Homo sapiens: one gene and its partners. The protein of the gene in region 1 purifies or fractionates together with the protein of each later gene. This does not show direct contact. Each region holds a gene or a part of one and is shown on either strand. Other genes may lie near its edges.

Region 1 (4,032 bases):
TCTCATCAGGGCTCTGGGAGGCAGAGGAGGGGGTGCGCAGAAGGCACTGTCCTGGCCAGAGCTCTCAGAGGCCCAGCTGCATGCTCTGGTGTCCAGCTCTGGGCTCAGGGCGGGGTGGGACCACAGTCTGGGTGGCTGGGGCTGCAAGACTCCGAGGTGAAAGGTCACTCCTGGAAGGGCTTGTCCAGCCGGTTAAAGGTTAACCTGCCCAGAGCCAGAGGCTCGCCAGCCCGGGCCTCGCATACAAAGGGTGCTTAATAAATGCTGGTCGGGCGGGCCCCAGCCCCGGTACTGGGGGATGGGGTGAGTTGGAGGTGGCGGCAGCTGCGAGGCTCCAGGGCGCCTGGAAGAGACATCTGCAGTCCAGCCGGCCGCCAGGCCAAGCCCTTTCTGCAAAGCACAGAAAGAAAAGGAAATTAAAAGGGAAAAAGGGGCAGGCCCCCAGACAGGGCATGCCTGTCGCCTCCAGCCGCGCGGGGCGGGTGGGCGCCCTGCCCCCGGAGGCCAGAAATTCTGCAGAGGGGCCCCCTGACCTCGCGGCCCCGGCCAGCCGGTCTCAGACCACAACATCCCTTCCCCCTGGAGATTCCGGGCACCAGGTGTTAACCCGAGCAGAGAAAGGGTGGGGTGGGGGTCAGACGCGGCGACTTTCTGGAAGAGGAAGCAAACACAATCTAGGGTGTGTGTGTGTGTGTGTGTGTGTGTGTGTGTGTGTGTGTCTGTCTGTCTCGCGCGCGCGTGTGTCTTGCGCAGGGGCGTACCCCCCCCCCGGGTGCCACTGGCCCCCCATCATTGCTTTGCCAGGAACTGTGGGGTGGGGAGAGGTTCCGAGGGGCGCCTCGAGGGTGATCGAGCGACCCAACGTCCAAGGCCAGAGGTGGAGGGGAGGGCCTTGGAGAGACATCTTGGCGAGGCTCAAGGAAGGGCAGAGGGCAGGCGCGGCTGAGGCTCCCGCCGCGGCCCGGCAGGGGTTAAGGCCCGAGCTGGGCGAGGGCGAGGGCGGGGGTGCGGGGGGAGGGGCAGAGGGAGGCGGGGGAGGGTCAGGCCCCGCGGCCCAGCGCTCGGCCCCCGTCCCTCCCGCCGGCCCGTTCGCCCGGCGCCGCGCGCGGCCACCCATGCCCTTATAAGGGCGGCCGTCGCCGGGGCAACGAGCGCCCGCCCCCAGCCCGCGGCGCGCGCCCCTGCCCCCGCCCCCGCCCCCCGCCCGCCCCGCGAATGGAACGCTGTGTGTCAAACCGGCCGCAGCGCGAGGCCGGCGCGCGGGGTCGGTGGCGGTGGCGGCGGCGAGAGCGAGGCTTGGGCCCAGGCGCAGGCCCAGGCCAGGCAGGAGCGGCCGCAGCGGGGGCGGCAGCTCCAGAGGCGCCGGCCCAGCGGCCCTGCAGGCCCGGAGCGGCAGCCGCGGGCGCCGGGGGACCCAGGGGGCGCGGCGATCAGCCCCGGCGCGCACCCGCCGCCCCTCCCCCCCCGCCACGGGCGGCCGCGCAACTTGCGGCCAAACTTTCCCCCCGGCCTCCCGCGCTCGGATGGCGGCCCGCTGAGTTGGCCGCAGCCCCCGGGCGAGCGGCGGCCAGGCCAGAGGACGCCCCCTGCGCGGCTCGGGCCGGGCCATGGCCCGCGCGCCCCCGCCGGGGCCCCAGGGCGGCGGGACGCGAGTCCTCTGGGCCCCCGGCCCGCGCCTCTAGCGTGCCCCTCCCGGCCCCGGGCCCGGCCCCGCGCACGCGTGGGAAAGTTGGCCTGGAACCGGCCCGACCAGTTCCGCCCGGGCGCGAGGACCGGCCGCAGGAAGTTGCTGCAAAACTTTTTTGGGGGGTGCAGCCCGTGCCCCCCGCGCGCCGGGGCCGAATGCGCGCCGCGTAGGGTCCCCCGGGCCGAGAGGGGTGCCCGGAGGGAAGAGCGCGGTGGGGGCGCCCCGGCCCCGCTGCCCTGGGGCTATGGCCATGGTGACCGGCGGCTGGGGCGGCCCCGGCGGCGACACGAACGGCGTGGACAAGGCGGGCGGCTACCCGCGCGCGGCCGAGGACGACTCGGCCTCGCCCCCCGGTGCCGCCAGCGACGCCGAGCCGGGCGACGAGGAGCGGCCGGGGCTGCAGGTGGACTGCGTGGTGTGCGGGGACAAGTCGAGCGGCAAGCATTACGGTGTCTTCACCTGCGAGGGCTGCAAGAGCTTTTTCAAGCGAAGCATCCGCCGCAACCTCAGCTACACCTGCCGGTGAGCCCCCCATCCGCGCGCCGCCGCCGTGCACCCCGCCCCGACCTGGGGCAGGCCTCTGACCTGCTCGGTCACCTTGGGCCTGGCGCTGACCTTCCCTGGGCCTCCACTGCCCCCTCTGAGATAGGGGCACAGCACCCTCCTCCCGCATTCCATGGCTGGGATTGTGTATACAGTCGGCGCTACATCGTTGCAGGTTCCCCCCCCATCAGGTGGTCCCTGGAGGCTTTTGCCCCAGTTACTTGCTTCTCCTTCCCTCCGCTTTTTCTCTGGGGAGGGGTCATCTCCGCGCTGGGGTGGGGGTAGGGGTGCTGTCAGGGGTGGTAACCCAACCCCAGGGCACCCGTTCTCGGGGATCCCGGCGCGCGGGATGCCCTCGAGGGAATCGAACGTGGAACTTGGACCGTGGAGCTCGCAGCGTCCAGGGGCCATTGTCTGCGGCCGCGCGGATCGATACGGCGCGCCCTTGGGGTCAAATATCACTTCCAAAGTCGCTGTGGCTACGGAGGCGGCAGACGGAGGGAGGCTGGGGTGGCACGGGGCGGCCTTCTTCGCATGAGGGGCCCAGCGGTGGGGGTGGGGGTGGGAGCTGGGCTTGCCCATCTCAGGGAACCCCTCTGGGCTCACTCTGGGCCTTGGGTCACCGGAAATCGCCACTGGAAGGCCGGCAGGGCCACCGGAATTGACTGAAACGTCCCTCTCCCCCAGGGGTGGGTGCAGACCTGGGGCTCCTGGAAAAATCCCTCAAACTTTGGGTGTCTCTGAGACGGGCAGGGAGTGAAACGTTTCCGAGCAGGAGCCTTGGGCTGTCCCAGGTCGGAGACCTCTCTGGCAGGGCGTGGCCTTGCTAGCTGTTCTGGCGGAAGGTCCCCAGGGAAAGCGATCGGGGTTGTCCAGCCCGGGAGTTCTTTTCTCACCGTTCCCGGGCGAGCATCCGATCTGTCCGTTTATAAGCCCCTACTCTGCACCCCAGGAACATGCAGGGTCTCTGTGGAGCCCGTCTAGACGGTCTCAGTTCCCAGCTGCCCAAAACAGAGGCCCAAAGGCCCAGAGAGAGGTCCTGGTGCCTGCTTTGCGTTGGACATGGAGGGACGCTGCCCGAGTTGGGGGCACTGTGGGGGAACTGTGGGGCTAGGGTGGGGACCGCTGAGTTCGGATCGGAGTGGCCCCAGGGAGAACGGCTGATGGAAGGCTTGTTGGCTGAGGCCACCAAATAGGGCCCCAGGTACCCGAGGGTGGAGTTTGGCCCCAGGTCCCGGGTCAGGGCTGGCCTGGTGTGGCCATGTGTGGCAGAGCTGCCTTGCTCCCTCCTCCAGCACAAAGTGGGCCACTAGACTTTGGCCTCATTCTTGCTGCTGGAAAACCGCCTGCTCTCTGGTCATATCTTTAGGGAGGGTAAGGGAGGGGGGCTCAGGCAGTTTTGGGGTCCCAGGAGCTTCCTGAGGGTGGTGTCAGGGAGCAGCAATTTTGGGTGGGGGGGGCCTTGCTTGGAGCTGACAGGTTTGTGCTGTGTCAGTTGTGTGACCTGGTGAAATCACCATTCCATTCTGAGCTTCAAATGGATTGAGCAGGGTCTCGCTGGGGCCCAGCCTGGGTAGTTTGATGCCAGCCCCTCCAGAGAGACCCCAGCTCCAAGTCTAGCTCCTGAGAAGCCCCCAGTCTGGAGGAGACACAGTGAGACAGATGCCCCAAGTCTGTGGGATCTGGGGTCCCAGGGAGAGAGCAGAGGCTCTGCCTGGAGGTCAGAGAGGGCTGCCTGGAGGAGGCTAGGGGACATGAGCCTTGAAGCATGGAGTTGGCAGGTGGAAGAAAGGCCACAGGGA
Region 2 (3,500 bases), on another chromosome or scaffold:
ACCTGTGATGAGGACTGGGGTGCACACGTGTGCTGAGGACACCCTCCAAGGCCGGCCCCGGGGCTCAGACAGGCAGGCTGGGGCCACATCTGAGCCTCCTGGTTTTAGTGCATTCACTCTGGCGCAGACAGACCATGGCTGAGCGTGTGGTCCCGAATTCCATCCTTGGAACAGAGGAAGTTTTTGTTATGAGAAAGAACTCCAGCCACAGCGGATTTGCACCTGCAGGTCTGTGTCTTGCGACACTTAAGGGCCAGGCTGGACGGGCCCCCACAGAGGTGGAGGAGTGGCCGGCTCTGGCCAAGCTGCCAGACACCACCAGGGAAACAGGTGCACCCACAGAGCTTCTGTGCCTGCTGAGGGGCTGGGAGTCGTAGCCTCAAGGAGCAGGCTCATTTTGTTGCTTTCTGCTTTAAGGTGGTTTTTCTTCTGGTTGGATGAGAAAAGTTAGTTGAGCCCCCCACGGATTGACTCAGCAGCTGAGTATGTAGAAACTGGCCTGGTCCTGGGGCCAGCATGTGAGCCATCCCCCACCACCCACAGGCCTCCCAGGAGGCCCTGCTCCCGCAGCAGAGCGGCCGCTGTCACCGAGGCAATGGCCAGATCAGGAATTCCAGGACCCCCGGGAGGGTGGGACACTGCGGCTCCACCGGTCCCTGTGTCTATGGAATCGGTGTCAGCGGACATCCCGTTCATGGTGGGATATGCCCGTAGGTGTCGGGCAGATGGGGGAGTTTCAATACCGGCTCCTTTAGGGGGTCTCAGTTTGGAGGAAAAAAGCCTTATTTCCTTGATGATGGTTTCATTCCTTAAGAACGCACTAGAATCTGCCCCTTAGTAGCTGCCTGTGGTGTTTCTAGATTCGGGGGCAACGTTGGCTTTGTGGTTCGTTTTTATTTTATTTAACTGTGAACGCCCTTTTACTCCCTGCATTGAGGTGAGACAGAGGACACGGCTCTCAAGGAGAGGAAGAAGTTGTTGGGATTCCCAGGCTTCATGAGGCCGGGCTGTCCCTGAGCCTGAGGCGACCTGCAGGGCTGACTGATTTCTATCCACTGAGGAAGGTTAGGATTCAACCTCAGCCTCACTTTGTGCAGCCGCCATGTTAGACATGCCGCCACAGACCACGGCACCGTTGTCCCTCCCGAAAGTGCTGTCCTGGGCCCGGCGGTGCAGCCCCTGGCAGCTTGCGAGGCCCGGGCTGCCCGCCTCTCCCGTGGCACAGGCTTGGGGACAGGGTGTGCCCGAGCCAGTGGCTGGCTCAGGAGGCCACAGAGGTGCATTTGCCTCTGCTCCAGGCGAGCTTGGGCGGTTCTGGGAGGGCCTGGGGACACAGGGTGACGTGGTGGGAGGGCGCTATGGCCTGTCAGCCTTTGATCTTGGGGCAGGTGGTTCTGCCTGCCTGCCACAGAGGACGGGGTCCTCCATCCCCTCGCGAGCTCCTGGAGGCCACGATGCTCCTGGGGACACCTCCCCTTTGGGAAGGTGAGGGCTGGGGCTGTCCCTGTTGCCAGGCTCTGGCCCTAGGAAGGAGGTTTGTGGCCCCAGTGACTAACGGATTCCCTTGTCTGCCTGGGAGTGTGTTGACCACCAGGGAGTAACCAGGGAACTGGACTCTCCGTGTGGCAGGAGGGGCATCTCCCAGCCTTCGAGCCTGATTGCTTTTCCAGTGCCTGAGCTGCACCCCTGGGATCCCAGCTTTCCCTTCCCGAGTCCGGGCAGCATCTGTGCTGGGCCCTGCTGGGACCTTCCTCCTCATGTGAGGCATGTCACGGCTGGCACTGGCCCCAGCCCGGGCCTCGGGTGTGGTGGGCCCACAGTGTGTCAGACCCTGGGTGTGGTGGGCCTCGGGCGTGGTGGCCTCGGGTGTGGTGGCCCTGGGCATGGTGGGCTTCAGGCATGGTGGCCTCGGGTGTGGTGGGCCCAGGCGTGGTGGGCTTCGGGCGTGGTGGGCCTCAGCTGTGGTGGCCTTGGGTATGGTGGGCCCGGGCATGGTGGGCTTCTGGCGTGGTGGCCTCGGGTGTGGTGGCCCTGGGTATGGTGGGCCTGGGCATGGTGGGCCCGGCCATGGTGGCCTCGGGTGTGGTGGGCCCGGGTGTGGTGGCCCCCGAGGAGGAGTGTGTCCTGGAGAACAGGCGGGTGCGTGAGAGCTCCCAGCTCAGCCACAAGAGCAACACATGCTGCCCACCCAGCCTCGCCTACCCTGCCTACCCTGAGACGCCTTGGCAGGACCTAGAAGCCAAGCCTGGGGTAGGGCCTCGGCGTTGCCTGCACGTGTGCCCAGATGGCTTCTTCGGAGCCCTGAGTGGGCCCCCGAGGCTGTGTGTCCACTTGGCCCAGGCAGGGCGCTCTGGACACCTGGTGATTCCAGGTAGAGAGTGGAGCCCAGGCGCCTGCTGGCTGTGCGTGCGGTGCCTGGAGGCTACAGCCAGCGAGGATTCATTTCAGAGAGTACAGAACAACTTTTTGTTTTTATAAACCAGCTCTTGAAGGTTGCATTTAAAAACTTGGGCTGACAGGGTCTGAGAGGATGTGTTTGCCTTTAGTAGAGTTTTGGATTTTGTGGCAGAGTGTCCGGGACAGTTGAGGGGGTGATGGGACAGATTCAGCTCCCAACGTGAGACCAACTGCACAGGTGCACATTGGGGCGACTCTGCCTGCCATGCAGCTCCGTGCACATCCGAATGACTGCGTTATTTCCTTGCACAGAAAACAGCCTTTCTCCTGGGCTGACACCTGTGCCCTGGGCCTGTGGACGCCCTGTCCAGGCAGCATGCCTCCTTGGTTATCCAAACAGTAAGAAGAAATGCAGGAACTTCGTGATCCACACGCGTGTGGATGACCCTGGCACACAGCGTTCCCGTTAAATTCTAAGTGTGGATAAGACGGCACACCGGACCACTCTTTCCAGAGCCTCTCCTTGCGGCTGCTAATAATGAAATACATCTTAGATGGCTTTTTAAACATAGCATTTAGGGTATTTGTTTCTCCTTTCAAAAGAGAAGAATCCCTTCCCAAAGTAGGCGAGCCGGAAAGGCCCAGCCTGGCCACTTTCCGCATGAGTGGCCACGACTTTGCTGGATTGAAAGGCAAAGGGAACAGGCCAGCTTTGGCCCCTTCAGCCTGGCCTGATCACTCCTTTACAGCCTGTGAATGAGGCAGCTCTGGGGAGGGGTTTGGGGTGGCCGGCCCCTTCCTGGGCTCTGGGGTCCATCAGATGTTTGTCCTTTGGGAGCCTGCCTGAAGTGCTGAGATAAAGCAGTTTTTAAACAGTTTCCCGCAGATGCCTTTTGGGAGACAGAGCCGTGAATTTCCTGAGCCGCGTCCTGGGATGGCTACAATGGCCGTCTGCCTGCCAAGCCTTCTCCCATTCAGGGAAAGCAGCTTAAGCCACTTAAGCCCATTAGCATCTGGATGGGGCCGGACCTCCTTGGGACACAGGGGTGGGCAGGGTGGCCCCGCTGTGTGGCTGTTTGGGTGCTTGTTCTAATCCTCACGCT
Region 3 (3,500 bases), on another chromosome or scaffold:
ACAAACAACAGCTACTGAAGTGGGAAGGTGTTCAGACTCCTTTTTTTAACCTCCTCTGGGGCAGATGGGATGGACTAGAATTGTCAAGAAGGCCAGTTCAGTGAGCAGCATTAAAAATAGCAGACTAGCTCAATCTCTCAATATAAACTTAGTTCTCACAGGAACTTTGCAATTATCACATGCTTCATATGTTGCTATATGCATCTATGCCTTCTAGATAAAGTGCACACAGATCTTCCTATGACTTAAGCACAATAATAATCCATTTTAAAATCTTGTTTGTCATTTGTTTCTGAAGAAAAAGGAAAAGTCATTATCTGAGGGGCTTCAGCATTACAAAGACAGATTTGATCAAGGATTTTCATAAGGAGGAAATCTTTGGAATGAGGATATGTGTGTGTATCTGAGGGGTGGGGTGGCTAGAGGTGGGTACATATGGAACCTAGGTCATCCTTGCAAGTACCCTTAGCCTGTCAGCTCTCTCATCTAAATTCTCCTTTATCAGCTGTGGCTGGCACATAGTGCCTCACCAGTATTTGCTCTTGCAAAACATATATACTTAAGCATTTCTAGTTAATTTCTTAGAAGATATCTAGCAATAGCCTAGGAAATTGTGACCTTTATTTTGAATATTTACCATCATTTTCTGATGTCTCAGTTTAAATGCTTAAAGCTGTGTTTTAATAAGTAAAAGTGATGAGACTTCAAAAACCAAAAGTGACCATGATGGCCAAAGAATTTTTGACAACCACATGACAGCACAGTAATAGTTCATATGAATAATAGTTAAATTAGGCTGGGCGTGGTGGCTCATGCTTATAATCCCAGCACTTTGGGAGGCTAGGGTGGATGGATCACTTGAGGTCAAGGTTTGAGATCAGCCTGGCCAACATGGCAAAACCCCGTCTCTACTAAAAATACAAAAAATAGCCAGGTGTGGTGACGTGCGCCAGTAGTCCCAGCTACTCGGGAGGCTGAGGCAGGAGAATCACTTAAACCCAGGAGGCAGAGGTTGCAGTGAGCCGAGATCGCACTACTGTAGTCCAGCCTGGGTGACAGAGTGAGACTCCATCTTCCACCCACCCCCAAAAGTAATAATAGTTAGGTTACATCTAATAATGACAGATAACATGTAGTGAGTAGTTACTCTATGTCAAGCACTATTTTTTTATATTAACTCATTTAATGCTCATGAGAACCATATGAGAGATTATCTTATTGTCACATTTTTAAAGACAATAAGCTCAAAAGAATAAATTTGGCAAAAACCACACAGGGATTGGTGTGTCCAATGTGCTCTCATTTGCTGTGCCAGTGTCTTTCTCATTTTTTCAAACCATGAATGATAGCAAGAAGTAGATTTTCATTATGAGTCACCACTCAAATATCATATAGGAGTACTGAAGTCAAAAGAGTCAAAAATAATTTCCCTTACTACATAACATGAATTCAGATATTGTCTCTTCCAGTCTCTGTCACTTTTAATATTTGCTGGTCAAAGTTCACTGAGTTTTGAGGTCAAGAGTTCGAGACCAGCCTGACCAATATGGTGAAACCCTGTCTCTACTAAAAATACAAAAAAATTAATGGGGCACGGAGGTGTGTGCCTGTAGCTCTAGCTACTTGGGAGGCTAAGGCAGGAGAATCTCTTGAACTCGGGAGGCAGAGATTGCAGTGAGCCGAGATTGTTCCGCTGCACTCCAACCTGGGCAACAGAGCCAGACTCTGTCTCAATAAAGGAAAGAAAACAGTTCACTAGGTTAACTTCACAACATACTAACAGGCTTCAACTTACTGTCTGAAAAATTGGTTAATGGGTACAAAAACACACTTACGTAAAAAGAATAAGTTCTAGTATTCGATAGCATAGTAGGGAAATTATAGTTAAAAATAGTCTATTGTATATTTCAAAATAGCTAGAAGAGAAGAATCTTAATGTTCCGACACAAAGAAAACATAAATATTTTAGGCGGTGGATATCCCAATTACCCCGATTTTATCCTCATACATTATAAACATGTATCCAAATATCTCCTGGATCCCCAAAACTTGTATAACTATGACACATCAATAAAAATATCTGTTACAAAAAAAGAAAAATGCAGATACACAGAGTGCAAAAGAATAAATACCATTGAAATAAAACCATAAGCATGTGACATTTGGGAGCAATAAATTCAAGATGGAATGATATGCATGCATGTATGGTGAAGATTAATTATTATAGAAAGTCTGGGTTGGGAAGGAAGGGCTTCTCTAGGTTTTGCGGTAGATGAGGAAGACATCAGTCATGGCAAACATTCTCTTATTTGTGGAGGATGGGTTTATAATTAAGGAATTTGATCTTAGTATCCTTCAATGCACTCTAGGACTTCATTTGTATGGTTGACCTGGTATTGTCAGTGCAAATATACTTTCCCATAGTGCTGAAGTTTGAAAAAAAAAATTAAATTAGGTTAACAAAAATATGAATTTCTCCCTTTGTGATCTTCTACAGGGTGTTTTGAATGCTGTATCAAATGCCTGGGGGGCATTCCCTATGCCTCTCTGATTGCCACCATCCTGCTCTATGCGGGTGTTGCCCTGTTCTGTGGCTGCGGTCATGAAGCGCTTTCTGGAACTGTCAACATTCTGCAAACCTACTTTGAGATGGCAAGAACTGCTGGAGACACACTGGATGTTTTTACCATGTAAGTCACTCTAGTATTTCTTGTTATTTTCCATGTATATATTTACACTTCTATGTGTTAAATGATTAGGGGCCTACAGTTAGATGAGGTGATAATATATATGAAACAGCACTTTTAGGGTATACCTGATTCAAAAGGGTAATCATGATTCATGATTGCCTTCACAGTCAATAGAAGGCACGTAGCACAGGATCAGAGGCCGACTTAATCAGGACTTAACCAATGCTTTAAATGTAAAGTTGTATTCGAAATTTGGTTACCATTAAGTGGAATTCTGGGACTTCCCTTGCTCTTCTCATTTGAACAGAGGCTGTTCTATTAGAATAGTGCCAGGTACAAATCTGGCCCTTGCTACTAATTTTAGGAAAATCAGCAAAGCTCCATGGGTGCTCCCACCTTTAAAAGAAATAAACTCAGCCCTGGGTATGGTATCTTACTGTTGCTGTTACATTTACAGAAATGATGTAAATATTGTGCAAAGTTCTTATTGTCTTCTGTAAAAGAGTAAATCATAAGAAATCAAGCAACCTTTTTTTTCAAACACCAATTATACTTTTCTCTCATAAAATGTAAAACTCCTAAGATCACTATGATTATGTTAAAATAACTTTTTTAGAAAAGTAACTTAAACAGTCTGAAAATTAAAGTTTGCTGTTGAAATTTCAGCTCCTTATTGCATAATATAGAGAACAAAGGTTTGGGATTGAATTCTAGAAACGTTTATTGCTAAATAAGTTACTAATTCAGATAATTTATTCAGTGATTTTTATGCCCATGAAAAGAAAATAATTTATTAGTTTGTTTGTAATC

Evidence for each region.
Region 2: the proteins of NR2F6 (region 1) and INPP5A purify together in Homo sapiens (affinity purification with mass spectrometry; one large-scale study listed by BioGRID and IntAct). This does not show direct contact.
Region 3: the proteins of NR2F6 (region 1) and GPM6A purify together in Homo sapiens (affinity purification with mass spectrometry; one large-scale study listed by BioGRID and IntAct). This does not show direct contact.

Annotation. Positions count from the first base shown.
Region 1 is NC_000019.10:17,243,120-17,247,151, reverse strand, and holds the start of NR2F6 (nuclear receptor subfamily 2 group F member 6), read left to right. Parts: upstream 1-1,232; 5' UTR 1,233-1,931; coding exon 1,932-2,209; intron 2,210-4,032. UniProt on the Homo sapiens protein: Transcription factor predominantly involved in transcriptional repression.
Region 2 is NC_000010.11:132,743,787-132,747,286, forward strand, and holds part of INPP5A (inositol polyphosphate-5-phosphatase A), read left to right. Parts: intron 1-3,500. UniProt on the Homo sapiens protein: Phosphatase that specifically hydrolyzes the 5-phosphate of inositol 1,4,5-trisphosphate to inositol 1,4-bisphosphate, and inositol 1,3,4,5-tetrasphosphate to inositol 1,3,4-trisphosphate. Plays a crucial role in the survival of cerebellar Purkinje cells.
Region 3 is NC_000004.12:175,700,765-175,704,264, reverse strand, and holds part of GPM6A (neuronal membrane glycoprotein M6-a), read left to right. Parts: intron 1-2,497; coding exon 2,498-2,690; intron 2,691-3,500. UniProt on the Homo sapiens protein: Involved in neuronal differentiation, including differentiation and migration of neuronal stem cells. Plays a role in neuronal plasticity and is involved in neurite and filopodia outgrowth, filopodia motility and probably synapse formation.